Linked DNA regions of Homo sapiens: all the other regions are linked to region 2. Evidence: fine-mapped expression QTL. A gene starts in region 2. Each other region holds a variant in brackets. All regions are shown on one strand. Distances are from middle to middle.

Region 1 (8,089 bases), 38 kb before region 2:
TAAGGCCAGGTCTTATTCATCTTTGCATCTCAAGCACTAGCAGATTGCCTGATACTGAAGTATTCGTTGAATGCTAACCTAATGGATGTAACTGAAATTTAATATTGTATGTATTTATCTATGCAACAATATTTGTCAAAAGGGACTTGAACTTTACAGCTCACTGAATCCTGATCAAAACAAAAATTTTCAATTATTTGCACATTCAATTTGGTTGTATATAAAAAAGGTACAGGAGGAGATTATGTCTTCAAAGTGTTTTCCATCTCTGCCCTTTCCCCAGCCACATTACCATTTATCTAGTGAAGTAGCTCTAGCCTAGCAATGTATCTGTTTTGCTTGAAAAGGAAGATAGTTAAAGAAGAAAAATGTAATTGCTCCCTTCACCCTGTCATCAGGACAAAAACAATAACTACAGGTTGCAAGATGTTTAAAAAGATGACTCTTTGGTAAATGAATTAAAAAGTTTCTAAATAAAGGCCATGCATACCTTTTGTCTTCCTTCTTCTAAAGCAGCTTCCAGTTGTCTGGCCAATGCTGTATACTCTGCAGATTTCTCTTTAAACTTAAGATTGCTGTGCTTAAGACATTCTTCTTGGTTTGCCAGCTTCTTCTCAAGCTCTTTATTTTCTGCGTCCATCTGTTCTAATTTTCTTTTTACAGAAAACATATATTTTAAAATGTTAATGTGCAGAGAAATATGCAGCAGCAATGTTAAGTAATTTAATACTTACTGTTGAAGGTTTTCACACTTCAGCTGAATAAGACAGTTTTCCTCTTCCAGAGAAAGCTTTGTCAGAAGATTGTGATTTCCATCAACCTAAAAGAAAAAAAAAAGTTTTCTTAGTCATTTTCTTCACAATCAACTTCCAAAGAAATCCATATAATTTATTGTTAGAACAACCACAAGCAACGAGAAGGTATAAATGTTACTACTCTTACACAGAAAGACACCAAGAAAATGTTATATTGTTAAAATGGAAGTTTTAAATTCCTGGTTAAATTTAAAGAAGTTATGTTGCCTGTATTGGAAAATAACCAACTAAAAAAAATTCAGGATGATGGCTATTAAAACACTTTGAACAACACCTTATTGAAGAAAGATATTTATTTTGTTAAGTTGAAATAGGAAAATTTTAAGCAGTATTAATCTCCTATTTTTGGATACCTAGGGTTTCTCTTATGGTTTTCTGTTTCACCTAAAAATACTGATTAATAATTGAGTATCTGTGAAGTCGAAACTGTAAATAAAATACATATTTTTTTGAGAAGCAAAGTGAACAAATCAACCAAAGACACACTCACCCATGCCAAGACAGAATATTCTTCCCACTGCTTCAAAATCTGCTCTAAATAATGTAAGAAGCTTTGATTCAAGGAAAAAATTTTTTTCTCATAATTTCAATTAGTAATTTAGGCTAATCTATGTCGTTTGACATTTTACTAGAAAAATCTCTTCTCAGGAATTTAAACTAAAATTTTGTCTGCATATTTTTATCTAACTTTTAAGTTCAGGGGTACAAATGCAGGTTTGTTACACAGGTCAGCTTGTGTCATGGGGGTTTGTTGTACAGATTATTTCATCAATCAAGTATTAAGCCTAGTACCTGTTAGTTATTTTTTCTGATCCTCTCCCTCTTCCCACTCTCCACCCTCTGAAAGGCCCCACTGTGTGTTGTTCTTCTCCATGTGTCCACGTGTTCTCATCATTTAGCTCCTACTTTTTAAGTGAGAAAATGCAGTATTTTTTTTTGCAAAATTAAAATCCAGATCATATTTGGAAGATAGACAGGGAATGCTTCCTAAAACTGCCTTGAAAGTAAAAGAAAAAAGACTTGTCACCATCTTTGGACTGCTCCTTTAAAAAAAATTTCATTAATTAAAAAAATATTGAGTGCTTACTATGTGCTAGGCATTGAGCTAGGAGAAGGCTATGTGGCTACTAACAGGATACACATGATCCATATTCTGATGGTATAAAAAGTAAAACAGGAAAAAGAAACAGACTGAAAAATATCCCAAAAAACTTGACGTACAATTCTAATTAAAATAAATTCAATTTTTGTAATGTAAGTTTCAATAATTTACCTTATCCTTACATCAAGGAACATATATGTAAGTATAACTTTGCTCCTTCTCTCATTCTATTACCATGTCTTCAAATGTCTATAGATTTGCATGAATAAACTAAAATAAGAATTTTAATTACCAATTTTTCACCATAAAATACTAAAAGAATAGCTTGCAAAACTGTATTATAGTATCTGCATGAAAATGATGTTTTACGAACTAAGTAGATGGGAATTTAAAAATCAAGCCCTGACATGAGTGCCCTCAACTGGTGAAATCATTCCAAAGCATTCTTTTAACGCATCTAGCAAAACTCAGAAGGACGGCTGGACACCTGGCCCTGAAGCTCCCTAATGGTGTGTTCCTGGTCTGCACACTTCCCCTTGCAGCACTGCAGACTCTCCTGACACTCGTGAAGCCTCCGTTCCGCCGCCGTCAAGGAATCGCAGACACGCTCTAACTCCTTCAGATGAGACTCCATCTGGCCTCTCATCTGAGTTGTGGCAGTAGGGAAATAAGTGCAAGATCACACATTCAGCATTAATATTTTTATTATCTTAAATACTAGATATGCTTATAACGTAAGTATTTTAGGTATAATGGCTTTAAATAAGAACACAACTGAATAAATATTAAACTCTGTTAAATAAGAATGTATAACTAAAAAGTGGGGTAGACTTTAGTTTTCAAAAAGTTTGTTGAGCACATAAATAGGGTAAATTAGCTGACAGGGTGGATGTTTAACTAATTTTTAAGAGCAAATTTTTAAAATCCTGACATTATATTCAAGCATAGATTATCACTAATAACCATTACTAATAAAGCCGTAATTGTCTACTGCCCAGCTATAGGTTCTAAAGGAATTGTCACTTTTAGTCATTCAATCTTATAACTCAGATACTTACTTAAATTAGAGCAGCTTGCTTCACTCATCTTAGCCAAAACTGATAGGGTTTACTGTATATTATTTAAAAATTGCTAGTATCATCAGTTCTCACTTGCCTTTAATTTGGCCATTAATGTTACTATCAACAAATCTCTCTAATTTCATCTACATTAATCTGTTTTGGCTACTGCAGTTCCTCGCTGCAGCACTTTCGTGGAGATGTGAAAAGCAGCAACCTTAAGAAATGTTTGCACTGCTAATTACAAAAAATAGCCAGACTCTTTCCCTGAGACAGGAACACCTAATAGTTTCTGTGTAGTATCTGGCATTCTTGATCAGGAAAGATAATGCAGTATTTTTTTTTTTTTGCAAAATTAAAATCCAGATTATATTTGGAAGACAGACAGGGAATGCTTCCTAAAACTGTCTTGAAAGTAAAAGAAAAAAGACTTGTCGCCATCCTTGGACTGCTCCTTTAAAAAAAATTTCATTAATTAAAAAAATATTGAGTGCTTACTACGTGCTAGGCATTGAGCTAGGAGAAGGCTATGTGGCTACTAACAGGATACACATGATCCATATTCTGATGGTATATAAAGTAAAACAGGAAAAAAAAAAAACAGACTGAAAAATGTCTGTTTTAAGGACACTGAGGGATCCAGAACAAAGGATCCCTCAGTGTCCTTAAAACATCTTAGAGGCCATGAGAAAACCAGGAGACTTAAAACAGTGAAGTAAGAAAAAGAAAAATTTCATTAAAAAAATAGTTGTCTTGTTAAATACTAGTTAGAAAACATTGTGACCTCACAGTATCTGAAAAAGACAGGCTCCAACCCTTTCCGTCATTTGAACAGGATTGTAAAATATGCTTTTATTTACAGTGCTGCCTAGCAGAAAAGGAGACATTTGCACTGGTATGTTTCATGAGAAAATGAGACCAAAAGACATGAAATGGTTTATTCGCTGGCCTGCTAAAAATAGGTGAAAAGTAATTCCATGAAAGCAGTAAGTTGTGCATTCAGTGAGCTATCTTTATGTCTGTATAACTGGAGGACGCTTGCTCTGGCTGACCTCTTCTTCACATTATTGCCTTGCTCTGACTTCTCAATCCTAAGATAGGGAGCAACCCAGAGAGAGTAACCTTATTAGATTCAGATGGAAGCGACCACTAACAT[C/T]GCATGACCTCTGCTGCCAGGAGTCAGCATCCTACAACTTTCACTGCTTCTTTACCAAAACAACACAAAAAACCAAACAGAGATGCGGTTTCATTTAAAAATTTTAAAATATTCACAAAAACATCATAACTCGCCAACACTGGCCTTCCCTTCATTCTGTTGCAATAGAACAAATAAAAGGAAATGATCGTTTTTTAAAAGATATTATTTTTCTTCAAAAATGCATTTAGCAGATATTGGCTTTGCTTTTGTAGACGTAAAACATTTATAACCAGAAAAAAAGGGTGAGATTAAAAATGAGAGATACTTAGGTTTGTATACTTATGATTGATAACCATTTTTTGAGCTATTTAAAGTCTGCTCTTGCATCAGAAAAATTAAACATTTATGCTATTTTCCAAATATTAACAAAAAAGTGAAAAAACATTCACATAAACAAACAACATTTCCAGCCTGGAAGAAACATTATTTCCTTGGAAAACAAACTCTTACAGAGGCTAAGACTAGCCCTTTCCTAAGTATGAACTAGAGAAAATGACCAAAATGAATGAATTTGTGTACTATTCATAAAGTAAAAAATATATAAAATATTATTTATTTGAAATTCCAAACGTACCTTCTCTACATTTTTATTTTTGGTTTTTGTTATTTGGTTATTTTTATGTAGCAAATTTTCACATCTGCTTTTTACTATTTCAGCTGCTTCTTGCAACTTTTGTACCTGAAAATAAAGTATTAGAGAAACATATTATTTTTAGAATCATAACATGAGATAAAAATCTAAAATTTAAAATTTCATTTTAAACAAGTCATTATTTTCCTATCAATATCCTTGACTGGTTCATCTAATGTTATTACTTCTTTAAATATGGAATCACTCAGTGCTCTACTCTAACCCACAATCTTTGTCTGATTTACCTGTCTTCTCTCATCAATACTTCTAAACTCTCCACTTGAGCTTTGAAGACTACAAAGATTTTCATTTGCAGATCAATGTCACTTCAAAGAATCAGTCTCTGGTCCAAACTAGCTTCCATTTAAATTATTTTTCCCACCAAATCAAAATCTGCTAAAAAAAAAAAAAAAAATTCTAGGCCCTGCACCCAGAATATGGTCACTCAACCACAGTATTCCTGCTGAGGGATTAAACCCAAATAACCAGCTGGAAGACCCTGATGAATAACAAGTCCCACAGTCCACCACAACCTCCATTCCTACCTCAGACCTGGATGACTGAAATATTCTAACTGGATGTCTCAACTTAATTTTCCCATCTAATCCATCGAGATGCAGCCCCTTCCTACTTGCCCACACTTTGGCCCCCTTAAGCTTTCATCCTTAGTTCATTCTTTTTTTTTTTTTTTTTTTTTGAGATGGAGTCTTGCTCTGTTGCCCAGGCTGGGAGCACATTGGTGCAGTCTCGGCTCACTGCAACCTCCACCTCCTGGATTCAAGCAATTCTCCTGCCTCAGCCTCCTGAATAGCTGAGACTACAGGTGCATGTCACCACACCTGGCTAATTTTTGTATTTTTAGTAGAGACAGGGTTTCACCATGGTGGCCAGGCTAGTCTCGAACTCCTGACTTCAAATGATCCGCCCACCTCAGCCTCCCAGTGGATTACAGGTGTACGCCACTACACCCAGCCAGTTCATTATTCTTTAATTCAAACTCTCTCTGACCAGTGTGTTAACCATCATGCAAGGACCTGCATAAGTCCCATCTTATGAAGTTTTTTCTTGAATACTACATTTCCAAAAAAATAAAGGTTTTCTATAAATTACCATTGAACACATGGTCTATTTCATATATATTGTCATATGTTCTTTTCTTGGTCTTTCATGTGAATAATCTGAATTATACTTTATTTCTTGAGAAAGGAGGCATAATGAACTTTAATGACCCTAGAAGGGAGTCATTAATCTAAATCAATACCATTAAATACACATGATGACAAACAAATATAACCAAGATTAACAAGAATACATTAAGGGTCACATTATACCGATGTAATTCATTTTAAATCTACTTTTAGGAATATCCAGTATATCCATATGCAGTGTTTGAATCAGGAATCAGCAGAATCATCTATTTATAAAGATGTGTGGGACCTTAAGAAATATTTGAGACACACCATATTATAACCCACAATGATAGCCCCACCTCTCTTCAGTTCTATTTATTTAGATTACAAAGAAATAGTGTTTTAAATTGTCTACCAATTTTAGTAAACACTAAAATAAATGCAGTAGTCACCTGAGTTTTATACATTTCAATAAGGGTTTTCTGTTTTTTTTCTACTTCTTGCAATTCTGAGAGTTCATTTTCAACAGATACAACTTCATCCTTCAAAGCAGCAAGTGTAGTCTAGCAAAAAAGATATAGATTTTATAAGTCATTAGAATACATTTATACTCCAGTGCTACAGAATTATTATAAAAACATAACTCATGTATTAACAAAGTTGATAAAATAATTATTTTTTATTTCATGCAATACCATCTAAAATTTAGGAATTTCACAAAGCTAGTGACTAATAATTATGAACATCCTTATTAAGATTTACACAGGACATATTATTTTTAAAACTTTCTAAATTTACTGACAAAAAAACTTGGAAATGTGCCTAGATATGAAAAATCAATAGAATACAGAGGTTACTGGAAAAGAAAAATACACAAAAATTATACTTAATACATGATAAAGGTTAGATTTTTAAATCAATGGAGGAAACATGGACAACTAAATAAATGACAATAAGACAACTGTTTAACTATTAGGAAAAAAACAGGTTAACTACCTGCCTCAGCCCAACACTAAAGAAGCATCAAATGAATTAAATAAAAACTTTAAAAATTTTCAGACAATTCAGATAAAACTGTATTTCATTTCAGGATAGCAAAAGTCCTAAAGAGCATAAAATTAAAAGAAGATATGTAGAAATGTAAAAGTCTGAGATTTTATCTTCCTTGCAAGCTTACTAGTTAGTCTACTGCAATTTCATGGATGCTAACAGAAGGTACAAGATTCCTAGGTCAGAGACAGGGGACTTATTACTCACAGCAATAAGAGTAGCAAGACTGTCAGCATTTGTATCAGTTTGCTGAGCCCCAGTTCCCACAGAGCAACCCAGAGGCCAGATGGCAACTGTATATGCAGTCAAATGCATTACAGAAGAACAAACCTGAGTTTAGGGAACCCAAATTTCTTATAGCAGGCAGTGAGCATGCCTACCCATACTCCTAAGGGAGACACGGTTACCATATTCCAAGGATATCTACTATACAAACATCCTTCAAAAGACAGTCTACATGGACAATATCTTTGATTACAAGATGTGCAGAGCTGTGAGAGCACTCTCAAGAGAAGCCATTTAAAAAAATGTGTGTGCGTGTATCTCTCTCCAAAATTTCACAGCTTTCCAATACAGTTTAAATGGCAAACAAAATATGAAAAAGTATTAGCAAATGACAAATTTGATGTCTTGTCAAATAACATTTGTCATTAGAAAAATAAAACAAATATAAGATTAATATCCTTAATATAGTTATTATATATTAATTAGGACAAAAGACAAATATAAAAAATAATGAGTAGGTAATTCAAAAAGGCAGAAATGTGAATGATTGATGAATACATGAGCCAATATGTTCACTAGTTACTTTTTAAAATGCTGCAGGCACTGAAGGTTCTATTAGTGAACAAAACAGACGACATTCCCTTCCTCCATGAAGCTTACATACTGGAGGGGCAGACAGACAAAAAATAAGAACAAGCAGTAAAATACATCAAACACAAAAGCAGCTAGGAATGACATGTGGGCGAAGGCCTCCTGAGAAAGAGACTTTTGAGTAAAACTGATAGGAAGTGTGTCTGTTTAAGGGAAAAAGACAACAGCGGGAGGCGGCCTAGCAAGTTAGGGGAAAACAACAAGAAAGCCAGTGAGGTAGAAATAGAGA
Region 2 (8,089 bases):
ATCAAACAATGAGTAAAAAAACTGTGATATACATATATATATAATATATACATGATAAAATACTACTCAGCCATAAAAAGGAATAAATTAACGGCATTCACAGCAACATGGATGGAATTGGAGACTATTACTCTAAGTGAAGTAACTCAGCAATAAAAAACCAAACATCATATGTTCTTACTTATAAGTGGGAGCTAAGCTATGAGGATGCAAAGGGGTAAGAATGAATCAGTGGACTTTGGAGATTCAGGGTGAAAGGGTGGGAAGGGGGTGAGTGATAAAAGACTACCAATTGGAATTCAGTGTACACTGCTCAGGGATGGGTGCACCAAAATCTCACAAATCACCACTCAAGAACTCACTCATGTAACCAAATACCACCTGTTCCCCAAAAACCTATGGAAATAAAAAATTTTAAAAAACCATTTAAAAATCCTTAAAGATGAGCAATTTTAAAATATTTTAAAATGTTTAAAGATTTAAATTTCCTATACAGAGACAATTTTGCCAGTCTACTGCCAAGAGGACATGTACTTAAAGCTTTTTCCAGGAGTGCTTGTAGGCTATGCTGATCCAGCTACATTCACTAAACTATGTTCCACTGTGGCCAACAGCAAGCATTTGGGGATAACTGCTCAGGGACCATGATGCTAGCCATGGTCAGAGAAAAAGGAAAATCATGGTCCATGACCTTCCTTAACACCTAGATCAGACTAAGTAAATTAACTAACTTCAGATGAATATGTATTTTAAAACAATATCTCTGAAGAGAATAGCATATGAAACCTGCACATTTTGTTTTGCCAAACACAAATTCTTAGAAAACTAACTTCCACTGGCTTCAAACACAGCTTCTACTGAAAAAAGTCACCATGGCATATTCAGCAAGGAACACAAAGTAGATACAGGAATCCTCTTTTTTTCCCCCTACTATTCTGGACACTAGTCAAACGTTTACTAGAGAGGTAATTGTATGAAAAAAAAAAAAAGGATAGGAATCTTGGAAACAGGCAAAAAGCTGGAAAATAAATCTTATGCGTAAAAGCTACCAAAATGGAAAAAACGTTTTCTGATACAGAGAGATTAGATTAGATAACAAATTAGTAATCCCTCTCTCCAATGAAAAAAGAAGGATGTATATTTAAAAGATGGGCTGCAGACTGGATAATATAGGAAGAAGAGTTGACAGCAAGAGTGACTGTTCTGTAAACACGGCATGTACTTCAAAGCCAACATTCCATTTCCTTCTCAAAGTGTTGCCCTGATTTCTCCAGCCCATCAAGAACTCTAAACAAAAGTATTTTCAGAATCATATAGTTTAGAATTTAACTGCTCCATAAATGCTCATATTTTAGTTCTCTTTTAAACTTGCTATTAACTGTGAGGACAAATAATACGCATCACTCTCTGCCCTAAAAAATTACCTAACACAGTGGGGAGCATAGATTAGGTTCTCAAATATAAGTTAGGGTGACTAAATTATTTACTGTTTAAACTCGGACACTTTTGAGTGTCCATATAGAGCCCAATTACCCGGAAAAAGACCTGGCCAAAGATGTTCAGAATATTGTCTAATCCCAAATAAAGTCACCATCCTGTACCAGACAAACATAAAGCATATTCCTTTCCTTCAACACGACAGCTGTTGCCATTTACTGAGCAGAGCACTGACTGACCTTATAAACATCATCTCACAAAAGCTTCACAAGGTTGTTATTAAAAAGCTATAAATAAGTAAATTAAATCTTAGAAGGGTTAAATAGCTTGTCCAAGATTACAAGTAAGGAATTGGTGGAACTCAGTTTTGAATTAAAAGCCATGAGATGGTGAAACCGCATCTCTACTAAAAATACAAAAATTAGCTAGGCGTGGTGGTGGGCACCTGTAGTCCCAGCTACTCGAGAGGCTGAGGCAGGAGAATCACTTGAACCCGGGAGGCGGACGTTGCAGTGAGCCGAGATCGCGCCACTGCACTCCACTGCGGCAGAGCGAGACTCCATCTCAAAAAAAAAAAAAAGCCATGAGATACTAAAACATAAATATAAAAATCTACAAAGCAAAAAGTAACACACAAACTTGCCTTTATTCAGTCAGGTTTTAATACTCATAAGTTCAATTTAGATTCAAAAGATGAAAACTGTTCTGGACAAGGAAATGAGTGATGAATGAGCTAGCTAAAAGCACAGACTACAATTCTAAAGAGAGAGAGCAGACCGCGACCAGATCACTAAATTCCATTGTTCTAAAGTTTGTCACAAGGAACTTTTGGGATAGAAAAACTACACTATAAATACACATCCATTGTGAAATAAGAAGATGAAAAAGAGAAGCAAAAAGCAAATCATAAACATGATCATGACATTCTTACTATAAGCAGAATATCAAACTAATTTCAAAAGCAGACAGGTTTTCTGCAGTTTGTTTCTTTTTCCTTTTTTTTTTTTTTTTTTGAGACAGAGTCTCGCGCTGTCGCCCAGGCTGGAGTGCAGTGGCGCGATCTCGGCTCACGGCAAGCTCCGCCTCCTGGGTTCACGCCATTCTCCTGCCTCAGCCTCCCGAGTAGCTGGGACTACGGGCGCCCGCCACCACGCCCGGATAACTTTTTGTATTTGTTTTAGTAGAGACGGGGTTTCACCGTGTTGGCCAGGATGGTCTCGATCTCCTAACCTCGTGATCCGCCCGCCTCGGCCTCCCAAAGTGCTGGGATTACAGGCGTGAGCCACCGCGCCCGGCCCGGTTTGTTTCTTTAACCTTAACTCAGTTGCACTTAAAACTCCAAGAACCTCATTCATTCAAAAACACTTGAAACCGTACTATGCGTTGCGTGATGAGGAAACTGTCTTCGAAATAGATTTTATCCCCAACAGCAGCCCCAGTATGGTTATTCTCAGTAAACAACAAGCACCACCACTCACTAACCACCTACATTCGGTGCCACCTTAATGGCCCTGCGTTTACTTAATCTCGTATTACAACCACCCCAAAGTGATGATTACTGTTACAGTTATCAGTAAGGAATCCAGGAAGGTTCAGTGACCTAGACAAGGCCACACAGCGGGTTCAGTGGCAGAGCTGGGACTGAACACAAGTCGGCCTTTAGCACTCTCCACGACCCTAGGTCAATCCCGCACTACAGGGGTCGCCTATAGGGGCTGGAACCTAGAGGAATCCTGGAGAAGGAATTATTTCCTGAGGATTCCTGTAATATACCTCACTTACGAAGCCCCCAGGGCTTCCTACAATCTGATATATCACATGATGGGCGATTAAAAACCAGCCCAATGATTAAGAGGTCACTATTTCTGAAAGAAATGCAACCATATCCAGGAACGGCCCGGTCAGGACTTCGTTCTGCACAAGCCCACCTCACGCTAACATTTGCCCTGATGTCCCGGGGACCACACCCTTCCTAAGAGTGAGTCTCGCCGCCCTTTTCCCAGGCCAGGTAGTCAGCCTGAGGGAGGTGGAGGGTTTGCGCGGAGGGGGCTGGGTGGGCGCGAGGGCCTTTTACTTCCGGGACCCACCACTGCCCTCACCTCCAGACCGCTAAGGGCTCCCGCGGTAAACGCCCAGCAGCAGCTAGGCTCCCCACAAAGTCGCCCCCAACCCAAAAGGCGTACTTACGCCCCCGCCGCTGCGTCCGCACGTCGTCGTGACGACAGCCCGCCGTCGCCGCGATATAAAAAAAGGGTCAGAGGCGCCACGGCTGCTGCAATGGAAACCGTGGCAATCCTTCTTGTGCTCTGAGTCGGCTAGGAGGGAGCGGGACGCAGGGGGCACTACAGTGGGTAGACTAGGAAGGAAGGCAAGGGACGCGAGGTGGGAACCAGGCGAATTCCTAGACCTGCTTGCCGCAGAAGAGTGCCCGCTCAAGTGGAACAAAAGCGCAGCTAGTAACCGGCTAGTGGCTTCTCTGGCAACGGCGGCCCCACCCCTCCCGTCAGGCCCGCAGCAGGCTGCCGATTGGTCCGGGTTAGGGACGGCGGGCAGCGCCTATAGCTATTGGAGAGGGTGAGGAACGGGGCAGGGAGGGCAGCTTCGTGTCTATCCTTGTTTCTCGGGTAAACATTTTTTTTTAAGCGTTTGTTTATGGACAAGGACAGCATTTGTGTACGTTACCGAAAATCATAACCGAGCCCAACTAGAAAAAAAGGAAATAAAGCCAATTCCGAGTTTTCTGGCGCTTGGCCTGGTTGTGCCCTGCTTTTGCTTTTTAAAGAGAAGATTTGAAAACGTGAAGGCAACTGCGACCGGAAGAAACCTCCTTTTAAATGTATAGTAGTATTTTTAGCTGAGATGCCTCCCTGGGCCTCAGGTTTTTTCCTGTTAAATGAGGAAGCCTGAGGATGTTCTGCAAGGTGCCTTCAGGGTCTCAAAGTCTTTCGTATCTGTGCCACAGCCAGCTGGTCTGGTTTATAAAGTCCTGAAGAAGCAAAGCAAGATTTTAATTGGAAAAATATCTTCATTCAATGCCTCTACTTAATATTCATGTTAAGAATCGTACACCAACCTATGAAGTTCACAAGTAGAGTAACTGTCAACTAAGCCATAACCGTGGCATGCTGCTACCTAAATAATTGGTTTCACTAAAGCACTCCAGCAATGTTTTTCCACCAGTACTGTAATTGTCCCTTTCATAATTTAAAGCGGGAGACAGAATTAGTAAATTTTTTAGTAAAGGGCCAGTGATATGGTTAGGCTCTGAGTCCCCGACCACATCCCATCTTGAATTGTAATCCCCATAATCCCCACGTGTCAAGAGAGAAACCAGGTGAAGGTAATTGAATCATGGGGGCAGTTCCATAATCCCCACGTGTCAAGAGAGAGACCAGATGAAGGTAATGGAATCATGGGGGCCGTTTACCCCCATGCTAGTGAGTTCTCAAGCTATCTGATGGTTTTGTAAGGGGCTCTTTCCCCTCCACTGGGCACTTCTCCTTAACGAAGAAGGTGTCCTGCTTCCCCTTCACCTTCCGTCATGATTGTAAGTTTCCTGAGGCCTCCCCAGCGACGCTGAACTGTGAGTCAATTAAACCCCTTTCCTTTATAAATTACCCAGTCTCAGGCAATTCTTTATAGCAGTATGAAAATGTGCTCATACAGCCAGATAATATTTTATTAATAGGTTTTGCAGGTCATATGGTCTCTGTGATACTATTTAACTCTGCCATTGTCTTACCAAGAAAAGCCATAGATGATACATAAACATAAACATATGAGCTCACTAAAGTACGTTTGTGTGCAGGATGCAACACTACAGTGTTGGGTAGAAATTGTGATTTCTATCTTCATGGCAACAAATGGGGACTAGAATGTAAAAATAGCAGGCAATGAAATAGAATAAAGATACTTGAATACAAATAATACTTCAAAATTAAAAAGCAACATTTTAGATAACCTGTTTGCAGAGGACAAACAGAAGGTTAAATGAAAGTGTGATGGAGAATCACCACCTTTACATCTTTGCACTCTTTAATAGTGCCACTAATCACTGGAATTCCCCTAGGACTATGGTATTGCCTTTGGTTTAATCTTTTAGTAGATAAGGGCAGTTCCAAAGGCTTCCACTTTGTCTTCCTATTATAATAGCCATGAGTCAAAAAGCCAATGTCAAGATGCTGTAAATCTCCTTTAAGGTTATGACATTCAGGTCTCTTCATTAGTTCTGGTAAATTTTTTGCTGTACAAATTAAGTAGAATCTTAGCAGACTATCCATTTCAATTATAGGGGCAGTGATTAATTATCAACTCCTAAAGATCCCCCTTAGTCAAACAATATGATACACCCTGCTGGTATCATGGTATCAACAGATATCTCATCTCTGATGGCTCAGTGGTATCACTTGGCCTCTATCACTTTGGGATCTTACTATTTCCATTAGGGAATTAGGGATTTCATGCAATGGCAGCATCTTTATCCCCAGGCTTATAGAATAGCAGCTACAGAGCTTTTAAAGGATTCTGGCATTCCCTATATTTTCTCAATGCTTTAGTAAAAAGAAGGTCCTTTGGCCCTCTCAGAACACCTTTGAAAGGAGATGACTGGGTAACATATGATAAATCCATTCATACAGTACTATTCCCTAAGTCTTCTTTAAAAATTGATACATACTAGATGTACATATTTTCAGGGTACATGTGATAATTGGATACATTTATATGAATGTGTAATGTGTAAAGATCAAATCAAGATAGTCAGGATATCCATCACCTTAAATATTTATCTTTATGCTATGAACATTCAAATTGTTCTCTTCTAGTTATTTTGAAATATACAATAGATTATAGTTAACTATAGTCACCCTACTTATCTGTCAAACACTGGGTCTTATTTCTTCTATCTAACTGTATGTCTGCACTCATTAATCAACCTCTCTTCGTTACCCCTTTCCCTAAGTCTTTTAATTCAATCCTCTAAAATCAAGAGATTTCTAACATCTCAACTTTATTTAGTTTCAATCAACCAACTGAGCAAACCTTGACAGCCACTCCTAGATGTTCAAAGCAAGAACAGTGAATTATGGTCTCTGGTAAATGTATTCATATTAATATCTTGGTCTCATCAAAAATATTCCTTCATCCCTGGTCTGCCACACTTGGAATTCATTATCATTTTCTATAGTCTTCTGCCAATATAAATAAGCAAAATCTTGCACTTTTTTGGTATGAAACCCTTCTCCCAGGTCAGATCTTTTATTATACCCTGGAACATGTTGGGATCTAACTTTAGATCTAGACCAGTGGTTCTTGACATTTTTTTTGCCACAGCCAAAGAGGAAGGGCAAGTGTCCTACTGGCATCTAGTGAGTAGAGGCTAGAGATGCTGTTAAACATCTGCAATGCACGGGACATCCTCCACAACAAAATGTCAACAGTGCTGACATTAAGAAACCCCGGTCCAATATGGAGAATACAAAGGCCACCAGCCACCTATAGCTATTTCAAACATTTGAAATGTGATGATTCTGAATTGAGACATGTTGTAAATGCAAAATACACACATTTTGCATATGAAAAAGAACATAAAATATCTTGATTTTCATACTGATTATGTCGAAATGATATTTTGGAAGGCAGCTATACTCACCACTATACCACCAATGCCACCAGAAATGATATTTTGTTTATGTTGAGTTAAATAAAATATATTACCAAAATTTAACCACAACTATTTCTTTTTCACTATTTTAAGAGTAGCTAGTAGAAGATTTTAAATTACGTATGTGGCTCACATTATATTTCTACTAGGTGATGTAGTCTAGAGGTATAAAGAACTGATAACAGTTGAGTTCTGAGAACAATCAGTTCTTCTCAATTGATTCACAAGGTAAATTCCTCAGATTAAGTTACTTCAGAATTTTCAAGGAGTACAAGACCAGCCCTATAGATAGGAAGGGAGGAGTTCTTCAGAAAGCAAAAAGCTCTGTAGTGTCTGCGTATTAAGATAATAGAGCTATCCGAATTCACCCAACCTCTCTATCACAACTCTAAAGATCCAACTCCTTCCCAATCAATGCCTTAATTTCTTACATAAGAGACCTGAGGAGTCTGTTTATTCAACTTACCTTGTAATTTAGCTCTTCACAGCATTAATACTTGATTTGGATGTGTCATCCCAGCAATTAATAAAGTTTTAAGGTAATCATAGAAGTTCTCTGGGCCTCTGAGCTTATCACATTTTTCTTTAAGCATCCTAGTACAGTCATAAATAGAAAAATCACCCCACAATCTTTGTATTCTTCATTCCTGCCATTCCCAACAAAGGTATGCCTTCAGTGACTACTTAATTCCTGAGGATTATAGGCCACTTTTAAATGGTTGTATAATTTATATTCAATAAAGTACATATGTATTAAATGTTCAGAGTATGACTTTTGCCAATTATATAATTATATGCACTCATGAAAATAATACCTAAAACAAAATTTAGAACATTTATGTCAGTCCAAAGTGTTTATTTGTATCTGTCTGTAGCTTGTCAGTTCACCAAAACTACCCTCATGCCTCTCCATCCTCCCCTAGCCCACACACAGAGAGACTACTACTTTCTAATTTATATGACTAGAGGTTAATATTGCCTATTCTTGGT
Region 3 (7,876 bases), 49 kb after region 2:
TTAAAAGGCTGCTTGGCATCACCAGAGCCAGGCTTTCAGCCCTAGGAGCCATTTACCACAATTGCCACCTCAGCTTTTCAAAGTCTGCGAGTGGAGCTTGTTCCTTTCTTGTGGCTCAAGTGCAGATGGGGGTGTGGCAGAGGCAAGGTGCAGAAGAAAAATAAGGAACTGTGAATTTACTTTTAGTGTTATAGTAACTTTCTGTCAATCAGAATTCATCTTATTTTTGCTTCTTCAACATCTTTGAAGCTCTTCCTTGTATAAGGGGTATCAACTATTTCATTAAATTCTACCACAAATATCTAAATATCTCTTTGACTACCACAACTTACATGATTTTGCTCACCAAAGCTTCCTCTAGTTAAGTCCTTTTCATAGGGCCACTTTTTTTTTCTTTCCAAAGTACTTTAAAGATATTTTGGACATAACTGAATAATGTGTTGAACAAAATTTCATCTATAGTTTCCTCACAGATGGCAAGTGTGCCTGCCAAGTTAATGGCTTGATGTGACCAATGCAGCCTGTCAATTTATTTAACGTGAAGATTATATTTACACAGTGAAGGCAATAAACACAATTCCACAATAAGAAGTAAAAATGTGAATTATATATGACAATATCTAGTACAGATTAGGCTACAATTGGCTCTTCTGATAATGCTCAATCTTTATGCCCTGTGACTTCCTCTGCAACAATAGGGAATAAAAACAAATGTTTAAAGAAGTAAAAAATAAATTTAACAAAATATTACTCATATGGGATCAAATAAGCCTTAACGTTCCCAAACTTGCCCCCCTCCCGACAAGCTGTTGGAGTCATTAGCTCCATTGGAGTGAGGTGGGAACTACATGTAAATCTTCTTCAACAGCCCAGGGCCCAGCATAGCATGTGGCCCAGCCATCAGCAATCCATAAATATTTCTTAAATTCATTTGAACAAACAATTCACAATGTCTTTGCTGTTATCCACCAATATAATTTTACACGCTTTGCAGATTTGAGCAATTAACGAAGCATTACTAATGTGCTTATTTAATAAATGTAAATTTTCAAAGTTATTTAGAGACTTGTATCCATTGGAAATACGCAGTAATTAAATGCAGGGGCTCTGGTGTCAGGCCCACTGGGTTTTATCACGGTTCCATTCCCTTGGTATGTGACATCGGCAAATTACTTCTCTAAGCCTACTCTTCCCATCTCTAAAATGTGGATAACAATAGTATTTATCACAGAGGATTTTTATAAGGATCAAGTGAGATTGTGAAGCCTTTAGCATGGGGCCAGGCATACGTTTGTACTCTGTACATGTTACACATGTGTGTGCACACACGTGGCTTATTGTGAATGGCTAAATAATTTTTTTTTTTTTTTGAGATGGAGTCTTGCTCTTCTCCCAGGCTGGAGTGCAGTGGCGCGATCTCAGCTCACTGCAGCCTCCACCTCCTTGGTTCAAGCAATTTCCCTGCCTCAGTCTCCCGAGCACCTGGGATTACAGGCACATGCCACCACACCTGACTAATTTGTTGGTATTTTTAGTACAGAAAGGGTTTCACCATGTTGGCCAGACTAGTCTCAAACTCCTGACCTCAGGCAATCCACTCGCCTTGGCCTCCCAAAGTGCTGGGATTACAGGCATGAGCCACTGTGCCCGGCCTAAATAATTTTTTAACGTAGCAAAACCATGCCAAAACCCAAGATTTTATTTCTTATCGAAATATATAAAAGGATCTGGACAGATTATATACAAATTAATAAAATTTAAGCATATTCACAAATGAAAATTTTTAAAAGCTTGTCATTGTAATTGCTGATCTGAGGCCAATGTTGGTTTGGATAAGAGATAATATGAGGACAGCTAACATCTTTTAATAAAGAATAATGAAATGACACTTGCATTAACTACAACAAAATGTTTTATACCTACTGTACTTAAATAACATGCAATATTTTGCTTTGCAAAGTATTTTTTATGAAAAATGATGTATAACTACAGTACCTGTCAGAATTAAATTATTTTTATTTTTGCCAATTAATTGTTGTTTGTTAAAAAAGAAAAAGATGGAATGATTATGCATACACCAGAAACTCTCATATATATCTTCTCTTTAACAGCTTGAAAGTACAGGTGAAAATGTCAAACCTCACCATCAATTGAAAAACACAGTGACTGTGGATAATACTGTGGGCAACGACACTATGTTTCTAGTTACGTGGCAGGCCAGTGGTCCTCCTGAGATTATATTATTTGATCCTGATGGACGAAAATACTACACAAATAATTTTATCACCAATCTAACTTTTCGGACAGCTAGTCTTTGGATTCCAGGAACAGCTAAGGTAGGTGTTGTGAGTTTGTTCCTAAGGACAACGTTCAACCAAGTTTATGATTTTCAGCTGAATCACATGATTAAATGCATTGTGTAAAGAAAATCTTGTTTTAATATATCAAAAGTTTACTTTAAATTTATGAGGCCATTTTGTGAATATTAAAAATTTAAGAGGAATAACTAAGGTATATTCCCAGTTTTATATATTAGACACCAAATACTTCAACACTGAAAATTAGTATTTCCACTAGTATTACAATTAATGTTTTTCTAGCCTACATATTTCTTTACATAATCCATACAAACACACTTTTCTATATGCTTAGAAAAAAATCTCTACTTAGAATTTATAATATGAATACATGCAATGCATGTGGTTTTTAGCATCTACTGGGTGTGCTGGGTTTTGTTCCAGGTACTTTACAATAAAATGCCATGGTAAGAGCATGAACAGGGTACTATCAGAACATACAAGAGGGTGGAAGGAAGAATGCTTCCTGGAAGCAAAGACATCAAAATGGAAATATAAGGAATAACAGGCCAGAGGTGGGTATGATATTGTGGGCAGAGGAAACAGCATATAGAAAGACTCAGATAAAAAG[A/T]ACATGGCTGTTCATAGAACTAGAGTAGTTCAATAGAGTAGGGTAATCTATAAGTTAGGGATGTAGGCAAAGGAAGGAGAGGGGAGTAGTGAGGCTAGACAGGTAAACAGGAGCTGTATTAGCAAGGGCTTTGCACAACAGTAAAGTGAACAGGGGCTTGAATCCTGAAAGTGAAAGGGAACCACTGATGGTTCTAAGGAGAACTGTAAGTTGATCAGATTCACTCTTGCACTGCCTGAATTCAGTGCCTCCTCACATGCTGCCCCACCCCCACTTTTGTTGTTGTTGTTGTTGTTGTTGTTGTTGTTGTTGAGATGGAGTCTCGCTCTGTCACCCAGGCGGGAGTGCAGTGGCACCATCTCAGCTCACTGCAACCTTCACCTCCCAGGTTCAAGCGATTCTCCTGCCTCAGCCTCCCGAGTAGCTGGGACTACAGGCACTTGCCACCATGCCTGGCTAATTTTTGTATTTTTTGGTAGAGATGAGGTTTCACCATGTTGGCCAGGCTGTTCTCAAACTCCTGACCTCAAGTGATCTGCCTGCCTCTGCCTCCTGAAGTGCTGGGATTGCAGGCATGAGCCACCGCTCCCACCACCTTCTTGACAGCCCCTTAACTAGCCTTCTTGACTCTGAACTGCCATCCCTCCAGTCCATTCTTTACCTCTATAAAAGCGATCCTTCTGAAGCACAAATCAGTCTGTCTTTTGTTCAAAACCTCCTTGGTGGTTTCAGAATAAAATCCAAGTGTTAACCTTTTTTTTTTTTTTTTTTTTTTTTTAGCTTAGAAGATTCGCATTTATTCCAGATGGGAGGCTGAATCTCTCAGTTGTAGATTTTGACACATTGGCACTATTTTTGTTTCTGATTTATTGCCTTGGCCATAAGGTCAAAGGCAACAATAAAGTGTACTTTCATTAATATCACCATGGACTTTCGAGTATTAATATGACAAGAAAAGACAACTATTCATTTTTTTTAAGGGGATTGGACACACAAACTTCAGGAGGGAAGAATCCCCTCTCCCATGGTAGAATCCTCTATCTTGATAAAATGGTTGCTTTATTGGTCAGATTTTGGACTTGGATCGTCTTTGTTATAATATTAATAGTACAGAGCATGTAAGATTTTCTGCATTCATTTGAAATTCCTAATACCAACCATCTTTTAATTTATAAAAAAATGAGGGAAACTTATAATAAAACAAAAAATACTACCCTCACAGACGATTAATAGCATGCAATCTATGAAATATTACACACATTAAAAGTCTCCAATTACTGTGTGCCTGGCTCATCACACAGTATCCTTCCAAGACGATCTATAGAATTCAAAACTGTACAAAAATTTTAAAATATGCAGAAAACCCAAAAGGTATTTTGTAAAACAAAGATCACACACACATTAGTACTAAATAGGGAAAAAAAATCAGCAGACCCATGGACTCCCCCTGCTCCCAACTGCAGGTCTTCAGTATAGAGGATTTCACCAGTGTCTTCTGCACTCCCCCAATCCAGTAGGGGTCCAACAGACCAGCTGCATTCCTCCTGACTGCCACCAACTCTGTTTTCTGCATAGTTGTCTTCTCTGCTTCTGTAGTGGTGAGCTGTGGGAACTTTTTTTTTTTTTTTTTTTTTTTGATGGAGTCTCGCTCTGTCACCAGGCCCAAGTGGTAAATCTTACATACCAGACCCTTCATGTTTTGGCTTCTACCCAAGCTTCTCTCTTAACTTCTTCGATGCTCTGCTCCTATTGAACTTTTCTCCAAATTCATCATGTTCTTTTCACACCTGTGTATAAGGGCCAGGGACACTTTACCTACTTCTTGCTCCCCTTGCCTGACCTCTTGGTCTGGATTAGATGCCCTGTATCAAAACATTTATTACACTCAGAGAACTTTTTGATGTGGAAGTTCCTGCCATGCATCTGTCACTAATGTTATGATTCAAAAAACAAAAACAAAAAAACATAGTCCTTGAATCATAACTTAATGGAAAATAGTGAAGCTCATGAATCCCAATGAAGAAAGATGGCTAGGGTGTGGTGCATCTGAACTCTCCACCCTGAGTTACGCTTCAACCCCTTGCTTTTCTGTTCTTCCTTCTGCTTTGTTGTGTTTCACTTGTTACTTCTGGGGGTTTGATAAGGAGCAGCAGCAGAAGTCAGGGAAAAGCAATATATGTATAGCTTAATCAAAAGGACGAATTTCTGCTATATTGTAATTTTAGTCTTTTTCTTTCAGATTTTCTTTTGTAGGTTTTTCCCAGGCAGATAGGCAAGAGTAGTGTTTAGCAGTATTTCTATAAATTACCCAAATTAGATATTGTATAATCCTGACCTATTAAAAATAGTAGGTCCTTTTCTTGGTCCCTAGTAGTGTATGTGTTTTTTGTTGATTGAGATTTCTGAGTGTGGAGTTTTTGGGAAGTGGAGTGAAAGAAGGATGTTGTTGCCTTTTTAGTCCACGGTGTCCACATAAATTATAATGGTCCAATTAATTTGATGTAATTTTCTCAGTTATGAAAAGAAATGAAAAACATTTAAACGCCTTTTTGGGGAAGGGGCTCAGATTAATATCTGTAAAGTACTTTGAAGCTGGACACTATTATTGTTATGTTCTAAAAATGGGAATCAAGATGTATCCTCCCTCACTCCAAATAAATTCGAGGTGTAATTCCCTAAAGAATTATCTAGAAATAAAGGTGACTTATGCTATGAAAGCCATGTAAATACAAATTTATTCATCCCTTAACCAATGCTACTTTTCCTGGCATCTTTTTGTAGTATTTTAAAAAGTGCAACATCAACAAAACAAGAGCAAAATTCTCCAGAAGTTTTGATGTATGCTTTAAAATTAGGGTTGATTTTTTTTTCACACTTTCCAAAACAATAAGACTTGTTTTACAGCCTGGGCACTGGACTTACACCCTGAACAATACCCATCATTCTCTGCAAGCCCTGAAAGTGACAGTGACCTCTCGCGCCTCCAACTCAGCTGTGCCCCCAGCCACTGTGGAAGCCTTTGTGGAAAGAGACAGCCTCCATTTTCCTCATCCTGTGATGATTTATGCCAATGTGAAACAGGGATTTTATCCCATTCTTAATGCCACTGTCACTGCCACAGTTGAGCCAGAGACTGGAGATCCTGTTACGCTGAGACTCCTTGATGATGGAGCAGGTAACAAGGAATGTCATGACATTTTATCATCTTCTCAACAGCTGTTGTGATATGATGCGGTAGTATCAATATTAAGCTTATCTGTAAGATTCCTTGAGTTCAATTTTTTTTTAATCTTACAATATTCTCAAATTCTTATAGAGTCACTGATATACTGAATAGCTACAGGTTAACATGGAAAAAGAGAGTCCTTGTGAGACTCCTCATAGTGTCTATGTTTGAGCAAAGGGTGGGAGGCAGCCGCTGGACACCTTGGTCCTGGCTTCCACTTGCTGAGGTCATACAGGAGCAGGCTTCTATGTCCTTATGACATACTTATATTCCTCTAAGAGTCACTAGCTTTATTATTCACTGAAGTAATCAGATTGGACTGTTAAAATAGCAAATGAAAATCAGAAGGGAGGTGCAGTGACAGCGAACCCACTTTTTCCCTTTGGACCCCAGTTATGAAGAAAAAATTGGAAACTGAACTTGTGACCTATAAGATGACCCTAGACCCAAGAGGCTGGGTTGAAGAGAGGGCACAGCTCAGTTCTAGCACAGCCAATGCCTTTTACGTGTGTAATTTGGTCCCAAGAAGACCCAGCCTGCAAGCCTAGTGGAATCAGAATAGAGAAAAGTTCTCATTCTGCACATACAGCATTCAGAGCCTCGTCATCATACATTATAGATGGTATAGCATCCAGCCAGGTAAACAGCAGCACTTGGGATCCTTTGAAAAACAAATTCCTTTGTTGTTCCATCTTTCCTATTTGGTTATTTTCCTAAATTACATTCTTAGAATGGCAGTAGACCTGCCTCTTGGCAGCCCGAAGTGTTTGATCTGCTAACAAAATTATATTCTTTTGCCCTGTTGTTTCAAAGTTAATCTTTTTTCAAGAGTCTTAAGTTTGGTAGCCCATCAGTATCTTGCCATGGCAATCATGTATGATGTGCAGGAAAACAAAAGTTCATTCAAAGGGTTTTGGTTCAAGTCCACCACTGGGGGATACCAGAGAAGTCTTCTTGTTTTGCCTGTTGGATTGGATCCAAATGAACTTCTCATGCTCTGATGGCTTATCCATGGTTGCACCTTTCATTTTTTGTTTATGGTCCAAAAATGTACTTTTGCAGAATGTTTCTCTCTTGCCCCACCCTGTGGGCCAGCCTGGAGAACAGAGCCTACTCCCCTAGGGAATATCGTCTGATTCAGCTCAATTGGCTTTTATATTATTCCTTGGAACTATTTTATTTGTTTGATATCTAAATGTATGCACTAAAAAAAGGAACAATAAAAAATACTGCTCAGGCATCAAAATGTAAATTGTTTCCCCTCCAATCAATACTTAACACGCATGTACATAGTTGTTTAATACTTTTATAATGGAAGCAGTATTTATTTGCTCAGTAAATGAACTGTAATAAAACTTATACCTCTGAAATGATTTACAATTTAAAATGTACTTTTTCATGCATACTCTCAAATAATCATCACAACAACCCTGCAAGATAAGTTATCTCCATTTTATAGATGAGAAAACTGAGGCTCAGAGACATGAAGCCTCATAGCTACTAAGTGACAGATGCAGGCCTTCAAATTAATTCCTCTGTCTCCCAAGCCAATGTTCTTTCCCCATTTCTTTCTGCCTCAGTTATTAAAAGAGGTGGCAGTGGTGACTTTAATATGGAGAGATTTTCCTTTGTAATTTCTCAACAAAGATAAACCTTATTAATCATTAAATCACTAAATACCAAGATTTGATTTCTTACAACAGACAAAAAAGAGTTCTAAAT

The links.
Region 1: its variant is fine-mapped to the expression of ODF2L in thyroid (GTEx, PIP 0.94).
Region 3: its variant is fine-mapped to the expression of ODF2L in whole blood (TOPMed, PIP 0.96).

What each region holds. Positions count from the first base shown.
Region 1 is chr1:86,354,040-86,362,128 of GRCh38, forward strand. ODF2L (outer dense fiber of sperm tails 2 like) reads right to left here. Exons shown (of 17, transcript NM_001366781.1): 11 at 6,387-6,497; 12 at 4,748-4,852; 13 at 2,405-2,563; 14 at 735-820; 15 at 491-653. It overlaps MIR7856 (microRNA 7856), which reads right to left and starts at 3,648; the gene lies at 3,593-3,648. The variant C/T (reference allele first, on the strand shown) is at 4,132.
Region 2 is chr1:86,392,409-86,400,497 of GRCh38, forward strand. It overlaps ODF2L (outer dense fiber of sperm tails 2 like), which reads right to left and starts at 3,915. Exons shown (of 17, transcript NM_001366781.1): 1 at 3,625-3,915. RefSeq lists an enhancer at 3,840-3,889.
Region 3 is chr1:86,441,676-86,449,551 of GRCh38, forward strand. It overlaps CLCA2 (chloride channel accessory 2), which reads left to right. Exons shown (of 14, transcript NM_006536.7): 10 at 2,112-2,336; 11 at 5,833-6,103. Among named protein-coding and RNA genes, the nearest start is that of CLCA2, 21 kb to the left of the region's middle. The variant A/T (reference allele first, on the strand shown) is at 2,929.